Regions from separate parts of the Homo sapiens genome. Here all the other regions are linked to region 1. Evidence: fine-mapped expression QTL. A gene starts in region 1. Each other region holds a variant in brackets. All regions are shown on one strand. Distances are between the middles of the regions.

What was found. PIP is the estimated chance that this variant, and not a neighbour inherited with it, causes the effect.
Region 2: its variant is fine-mapped to the expression of SEPTIN7 in whole blood (TOPMed, PIP 0.96).
Region 3: its variant is fine-mapped to the expression of SEPTIN7 in whole blood (INTERVAL, PIP above 0.99).

Annotation. Positions count from the first base shown.
Region 1 is chr7:35,799,551-35,802,316 of GRCh38, reverse strand. SEPTIN7 (septin 7) reads right to left here and starts at 1,260. Exons shown (of 14, transcript NM_001788.6): 1 at 1,047-1,260. The coding sequence starts at 1,107. It overlaps SEPTIN7-DT (SEPTIN7 divergent transcript), which reads left to right and starts at 1,692. Exons shown (of 5, transcript NR_120512.1): 1 at 1,692-1,827. RefSeq lists silencers at 349-798, 829-1,068 and enhancers at 1,219-1,608, 1,223-1,846, 1,969-2,028.
Region 2 is chr7:35,884,660-35,887,425 of GRCh38, reverse strand. It overlaps SEPTIN7 (septin 7), which reads right to left. Exons shown (of 14, transcript NM_001788.6): 10 at 1,547-1,598. Among named protein-coding and RNA genes, the nearest start is that of SEPTIN7, 85 kb to the right of the region's middle. The variant T/C (reference allele first, on the strand shown) is at 1,410.
Region 3 is chr7:35,901,710-35,904,475 of GRCh38, reverse strand. It overlaps SEPTIN7 (septin 7), which reads right to left. Exons shown (of 14, transcript NM_001788.6): 13 at 1,261-1,400; 14 at 1-222. The coding sequence ends at 183. Among named protein-coding and RNA genes, the nearest start is that of SEPTIN7, 100 kb to the right of the region's middle. The variant G/A (reference allele first, on the strand shown) is at 1,323.

The DNA of each region.
Region 1 (2,766 bases):
AAATGGAAATGTCCTAGAAAAATCTCGGTTGCTTATTTCTTACTATACACACAGCTGAAATGGAACTCAGGAGTGGAAAATGTAAATGAAATGGCCTGTTCTTTTTCCAACATGTGGGGGAGGAAAGGAAATGAAAGGGCTCGTTAAGAGAATAACTGAGAATATTGAAATATTTTCAAAAATTAATTTCCCTAAACTTCGCCACTCCACATCTCCGCTCCCTCCCTTTTCCAAGGACCCTTCCCACCCTTTCTATCTCCTCCGGGGGGCGCCCTTCCCAGGCGTTCTCTTTCCCTTACTCCTAAAAATTAAGCCCAAATTCCAAACCAAACTACCGATTCTCCCTCCGTTCTCAAGACTCGCCCGCCATCCACCGGCCTTCCGGGCTGCGCCTGGAGAGAGGCAACCCCGAGAGGCGGGAGGAGGAGCGGGGAGGCGACGCGGTGACTGGAGCTGCGGCTGCAGCCGCCGCCGCCGCCTCCACCACAGCCTCAGCCTGGTGCATCCTTCTTCCTCCCTCCCCGCCGCCGCCCGCCCGGGTTGGCCCACACAGCACCCTCGCCCGAGCGTTCACACTCGTCCCCACCCTCCTAGCCAGGCCCACTGCCCCACGAGGGGACTTCTGCCGACGGGGATGCGGCCGGGGACAGGAGGAAGCGGGGCCGCGGAAGCCGGCGGGCCCGGGAGGAGACTGAGGAAAGGCGAAGGGACGGAGAGAAGCAAGGGCAGGGCTGAGACCACCACGCTCAGGCTGCTCCGGCCGCGGAGGCCGCGGCTCTGCGCCGGGGGCCAGCCCGCCGCGGCACAGGAAATGCCGCCGCCTCGGCTCTCCTCACGTTCAATTCAAACTGTCACCGCCGCCGCCTCCCCTCCCCCCGAGCCCGCCGCTGCCGCGCCCCGGGCCCGCAGTGGCCCCCATCCCGGCTCCCCTCGCCGCTGCCTCCGCCTCGCCTCAGGGCGTTCCCTAGCTCGGTCCAGCGGCCGCAGAGCTTCCCGGCATTCGGAGCCGCTGACCCCAAGTCGCGGCACCCGAAGCTGAGACTCACCCATGGTGCTGCTGTTGACGCTCCTCTCCTCAGCAGCAGCGGATCTCGCACTGACCGACATCCCCTCCCCCCCTCCGCGACCAGCCCCAGCGGAGCGCAGCCCGCCGATTCTCCAAAGGCGCCTACGCCGATTCCGCAGCGTAGCCGCCCGGCGTAGCTGCCTTGCTTACGCACGCTACAGCAGGCGGACTCCTCCACAGGCTCTCGCTCGACTCCCGCTCCCTCCTCCGTCCCCCGCCCCCTCAGACGAGGCTTCCGGGCCTAGCGGAGGCTGGCTTCCATCTCGCGAGATTACCGCCTCCCCAGCTCCGCCGCCTCGCTCCATTTCGAGCATGACTTCATTGGCGTCAGCAACGTTTTGCTGTTCGGGTTTAGCCGCCATGTTTAAGTTGGCCGGGTTTCGCACCACTGAGGTCATGGATACTCAGGCCTCTTTGCGTGTTTCTTCAACACTGCTTCTAAGGTTAACCGCGTTACATTTGTTGGAGAAAATCCTGGGAACGCTGAAAAGGACTAGTGGGTGGGGTGCGAGGGTGGGGTCTTGCCCGAATTAAAGATGGCCGCAGTCAGCTCTGCCCCGCGCAATTTCACGTCAAGTTTTGGAGCTGCGGGAGCCGGCCAGTTGGCCTCAGCGCCTCCTTACGGAATTGGCGTAAGGCAAAGAGGCGCGGCTGGAAGAACCAGACTGAGAAAGTGCCACAGGGCGGGGGCCGCATCCGCCCCTCGGCTTCTGGTTACTGACCCGACGGCTTTGTGAGTGAAAGTGAAGAGACACTTCGAGGCAGGTGTCTGTGCTCCCCATTCATCCCTGTTTCCGTGGCTATCTTGACTTTCGGGGTGAAAAGTGAGGTTAGGCCCTGTTTCCCCGACCCTTCCCTCGCGCCATCACACTCTAGTGGCCTGGCACAGCCCCAGAGGTCGGCCGCTGTAGCCCCCATTGCGGACTCGCCACATTCATATTGGCTCACCTTGTCGGTGCCCGGTTCGGTCCTCTTGGAGCTCACACTCCAGTTGAGGAAATGAATGGACACAGGAACTACTGGGTAACAAAATACTAATAAAGGGCTGCGATTGTGTGAGTTTCTACTGTAGCGATGAATGTCGCTGTCATTGGAACGTTCCCCAAGTGCCTTCTAGTGAAAGCCTTACTTCACTCGGAATAACCTGTGGTCTTTTCTTGAACGTGATGGCTCTCTTGGTTGTATTCTTCATGCACATGTGTTACTTTTCCTGTTTAACTACATGTTAAAGAAATGTGTATGTTCCTGTTTAACTGCATGTTTTAAAAAAGTATGTGTATTTTTAAGTTATAGGCACGTGCAAGAAAGTTCAGAGCAAAATAGCTTATATTAGTGAAACAATAAATGTCTACTAATAGGAGAATGGATGAATAAGTGTCATTGTTGAACAAATTGACATACAACACGAACCAAAAAATCAGTGAACTAAAGCTACCATTTTTCATATGGATAGAGTCATTAACCTAATATTGAGGAAGAAATGAAAAGACAGGTTGCGGAAAGATATATATGACATACCATAAATAAAAGTTTAATAATTACAAAAAAGTAAGATCAAACTAAAAATTGTATAAGGAAATGATAGATACCAAATTCAGAATACTGGTTGCTTCCAGAGATGAACAGAAGGGAATGTAACAAGAAGGGTTCATTTGTATCTATAACGTTTGTTTTCTACCAGAAATATCTTGAAAATGTGG
Region 2 (2,766 bases), 85 kb before region 1:
GCGAGCCAAGATCGTGCCACTGCACTCCAGCCTGGGCAAGAAAGTGAGACTCCATCTCAACAAAGTAGCCTCTGGCTCAGTAACTAGCTTTCCCCTCTACAGTGTTTTAGGTATGTAGGAAATTATTGATTGTATACTTTTAAAATACACAAGAAAAAGTTATAGAATGCCATTGTGTCAAGCACTAGGCAAGTACCATAGAAGATTTAAAAACAAGAGGAATGCAATGGTAAATTAGTATTTATTAAACATTCTCTACTTATATACTGTCATAGCAGATTATATTATTAATATGTATTCTTTTGAAGTCACACCTTAAGAATGGAAGAGGAAGGGAATGGTTCATAATAGAGCCTGAAGTGTTGTATTCTCAAAACCCAGAAGATGACCTTCTCGTGCTTTTGCTCTTCTCCACTAAGTGAGGCCTGGCAACCTCAACTGCTGAATTAAACCTATCATGTAGTTCCTACCAAGAACACCTGCTCCTTTGAAAATAAAGATCAATTACATGCCATTTATTTAATTTCAAAATTCACTCTCACCTCTATTGTATTTCTTGAGGTAGCAGTTTGACTGTCTTAAATTTTCCCCCTCACTTCTCACCTTGAGAATGACCTCTTGTTATTCCATGATTTCCAACTATTATCCATATTTATGTAACTACCTTTCTTTACACAGCAAAAGAGATTCTTATGTTTTGGGAAAGTGGGTAGAGGTATGAAAATTAATAGATATCAACTAAAGACAGACATCTAAAACTGAAGGTTAAAGAGAGTATGTGGTAAAGGTGTAGAGAAGCAAGAGAGAAAAGTGGGAAATGCGGAGTCAGGTAGGGAGGGGAATGAATGTGTCTCAACATGAAAATACTGAGGATCATTTTGATGCCCTTTCTGTTCCTTGTCTACTAACATCTCTAGTCCTATTACACTTTTTCTTCATGATTTCCTCTCTGCTGCTGCTTTTCTAATTCATTAGTAAGAGATCCTCTTTACAGTCCTGGTCCTCTAATCAGGATGGCCTCGATGTCCTGCTCCCATAGGCTTTCCTTCTCTTTCAGCAGGTGTGTAAGACACAATTTAGGGATTTCTCACCTGGTAGGAATACTGGTTTTATTCACTATGTTCCAGTACATAAAATGTGCCCTACTCACCAGCTACCAGGCTGTGCACCTTTTAACATTCAAATTCTAGCTTTGGACTCAAAAACTAGCCTTCTCTTATATAGTTTTCACAAGGTTTTCACATTAAGAAAAAAGAGCCTCTTCTACTTCACTTTCCATAGTTATTTCAGTATTAAATCTCGACACAAAGTATAATGATAAAGAGACTAATTTTCCTATGTATCCCTAGACAAATTACTTTGCAACTTTTGCTCATGACTTCAAAACCTTGGAGAAAGAATCATCTATA[T/C]GTAGTGTTTACTTCATGGCTAGACTGAAGATATAAATTTAAATTAGCTACATTTATAGAAGGCAAAAAGTAAATCTGTCCAACTCTTACTTAGGGAAAGAAAATCTTATGCTATTTCCATCATTGCTTGCACTTACCTTATCAACATATTTCTTAGGATTGTAAAATCACAATGTTCACCATTTTCAACTGTAAGAAAAAAGCAGACCGCATATGTTATATTTCCACTAAACCTAGTCTTTTCAAAAAATATTTCACAGGAACTTGGGGTGTAAAAACAAGAAGAGGAAATGCAAAACAGATCAATTTTTTTGAGATTTAACACTAACATAGTACACTCAATGTGAGGGCATGACAGAGAAGTGTACTCTATTATTGCCTTATTGTAGTTTAATCCTCAGAAATAGATATGTAAACCTAACAAATGAACTCTCCAGAAACAACTTTGAAATTCTGAAAGGGGAAATCTTATTATTGGTAAAAAATATATTTATTCTATAATACATTTAAAAAATTCAGTGGTGTGAGTGAAGGGAGAATCACTTTAGAAAAAATCTTAAGGTAACCAAAATGAAAAAGGGAGCCAAGAACTTTCAGGTTCTTTACTTTTATTTTTAAAGAATGTATCACAAATAGGAATATTACTTGGGAGTAGAGGGGTAAACTACAAAAGAGAGATGCAAATCAATTTCTCCGGTGCGTATTTTTAAGGGGTAAGTTCTAAAGCCCCAGCTCAGCAAGTAAAAGTTGCCTGGGCATGATAGAGAGAGCTGGGAACAAGGTACACAGGTCACTGATGGGAAAATTGCCAATAAGGACAGTTACCTGAAACAATATCCTAAAAATTAAAGAATTGTTCAAAATAAACCAGGGGCAGTGGTGTGTGCTTATAGTGACGTGATGTGGGAGGAGCATGATGTGGGAGGATCACTTTGAGCTCAGGATTCTGAGGCCAGTTGGGCAACATAGCAAGACCTTGTCTCTTAAAAAAAAAAACGAAGTTCAAAAATAATAGCAACAAACAGATAAAACAATCAAATCTCAATTTTGGTTTCAGCTTACTATAATACAGAAGATTAAGTATCAGATTAAACCAATACAATAAACCTATTGCCAAGAGGAAGTACTTCTGAGGCTTGGTGTTATAACTAAGATTTTATTGGTATTTAAAACTCCTTACTTAACCCTTAATAATTTAAGATAGCAGGTTAAAAAAGAAAACAAAAAACTCCTTACAAAACTAGTAAAGAGGATCTCTTATTAACGAAATTTTTTTACTCTAAATATGAGATATCAAAAAGGGCAACTTTTGCACTGAGGAAAGAAGACTGTGGATGTTTTAACTGGGCTTACAAAT
Region 3 (2,766 bases), 100 kb before region 1:
CCTAGACAATTCAAGGCATCTTAATCTCCATCAAGAACAAAAAAAAAAATAATTTTTGTCATGCTGTTAAATCCATCATTATGGATAAAACTGGTGCAAATTGGTCAAACGGATCCAACAAACACTGATGTCCAAGCTGGCATATTGGCAACTAATACGTTAACTGGTGGTCAATAGAGAGTTTAAAAGATCTTCCCTTTCTTCTTGTTCTTTTCCAAGGTTCTAAAGGATAAAAGGAAAATAAGCAAGATGAGTAACCATTTTATAAACATGATAGACAACATGATAACAACAGCTAACCCAATTACAACAATGTTGGGATTTTCAGATACTACTTTTTCACTGAAAAAAATTAAAAGATTTAGAAGTAAACAGCTAAGACAATGTTAATCTATAATAGCATTTTCTTAGACAATCAAATATTTGACAAAACTCCAGGATAAGCAGTAAAAAAATAAGGCAAAACTCCATTTTAATATACAAGAACAATTCTTCCCAAATGAAACAGCACAAACTAAAAAGTATCAACTGGCAGCAAACAGGGTATTCTTTTTCCCCCACTGTCATTTGCATTTTGAAGTGCAATTGCTTTCACAAATCTATTTTCCTCTTCTTTGGGGAAAATGTTAACAGTAGGGTAGTGTAGTAGAACAAATGTCAAATCTGAAAATGTTTAGTAATGAGGATAAACTATATAATCCTTATAGGAATGCCACTTTTCAGTTTTAAGTGAAACTATTAAGGAAAAGAAAACCAAGGTACAAATATTATTGAATTTTGTATAAATTAAGAGAAAGTAATTGATTAGTTGTATTGGAAATCAAATATCTAACATTTTGTCTTAAGAATTTTATCGTAAAAACATAATTCAACAGTTAAAACATACCCCTAAATATGTAATAGATTTTGAAGAATGTTCCCTTTGTGTGCCAAAAATTGAAAACAACCCTTATGTCCAACAACTGGGGGGAGGAGGTAAGAAATCCAATGAAGGTAAGTTAACTGGGGAGAATGTTATGAAGTTGCTAAATCATAATTATGAATATTAAGTCATGAAAGATGTACTGAAAAAATACTGCTAATGGACACAGACTGTATCCATCCATATAAAAATATTTATCTATGAAAACCATTGTGTTTGGAATGCATGATAATGGGTGATGACTTTTTAAGTGTTATTCTAATGTTTTTTAAATAAGTAGGAAAACAATTCTTTAAAACATTAATACACACATTTCTTAGTAATCTGCTATTAGTTACCTTGAAGAGTTCTGTTGTTCTAAAATACGTTGTTGAGCTTCCCAGTTTGCTTTCTCATCCTC[G/A]AACTGACGACGTTTTTCCTCCAATTCTTTGTGCTGTGCTTCCAAATTCTTTTTCATTTGCTCATGGCGCCGCTGGAGCTAAATCATAGCACAATATATAAAACAAAACTATTTAAGAAATCAGAAGCAGAGGTATGTTTCATCCAGACACCCTAATGATAAGGAGTATGAGCACTATTTGAATAGCCCTGTTGTAAATTCAGAGTACTACCTGGAAGTACTCTGGTCAAGGACTCCTCCTCCTTTAGGACCTGCCACCCAAAAGGCCAGTGACCCAAGACAATAATCTTGGGAAACAGGAAAAAAAAAAAAAGCAACAAACTTAACAGTGTGGAGTACTTTATAATGGAAAATTACTATCTTATCTCGTTTTTCTTTAATCACAAATATGTTGGAGGCTGGGCAGTGAACACATCACTGTTCTCATTGTACAGATGAGGAAACAGTTGCAGAATTTAAGTGACTTGCCCAAGATTGCTAGCCAGAAAGTGGAAGAACCAGGACTTGAATAAGCCTCCTAATTCCAAGTTTAGAAAGCTAAGACAAGTGAAAAGAAAGCAGGTAGTTTAGGACCCTAAGAGCTCAAAGATGCCAGCAAAGTACTCTGATTCCTGTAAGCAGTGGTTCTCAGACATTGGTCTTCATGCAAATCACCTGGGATGTTTGTTAAAAATATAGAATCCTGGACCTCACTCAGACGTACTGAATTAGAATATCTGGGTGTTAAGTCTGGAAATGTGGATTTTCAACAAGTTACAGTGATTCTAATGCAGCTGGTCCTTCCTTCTCTGTGTATTAATACTGTAAAGAATGCTGACTGAGAGGCAGTAAACACTCATGCGAAGTAACTGCAGAAACAAAGTGCTTTAAGTCCAAGAGATCATTAGATAAGTAATTTCATTTAGGTGCAAGTCAATCCATTTCTGAAAAAAAAAAAAGTCAACAAATTTTAAAAATCAGATTAAATCCTTCTATGCCAAATACCCAAGGACTATTCAAAACCTTCAGTTATCCAGGAATTATGTTCTGTTACAGATTTTACTACACTGGTGAGTTAACATTAACATAATGTTAATATATAACTATTATATGTATTATATATTATATACATATTATATATGTTACTATAATTTTGCATACAATTTTTTTTTGCAAGCCCGAAGTGACTTCAGATTTATTCCTATTTCAATTATTTCATGCAATTCCTACAAAACAAAATCACCTAAGACACACTTAAGCAAACATGAATCAAATCTGAGGTGATATCTTCCTGATGACAGCAAACAAGTTACTAAGAAATGTCAGAAAGTAGGAACATAAGAAAATGTCTCTAGTTATTTTTTTTAAATGAAAAGAGTCACATATACACAATTCGGAATAGTAGTTACCTCTGGGAATGAGAGAGAGGGATACAATAGGGGACAGGCACACAGCATCTTCAAAT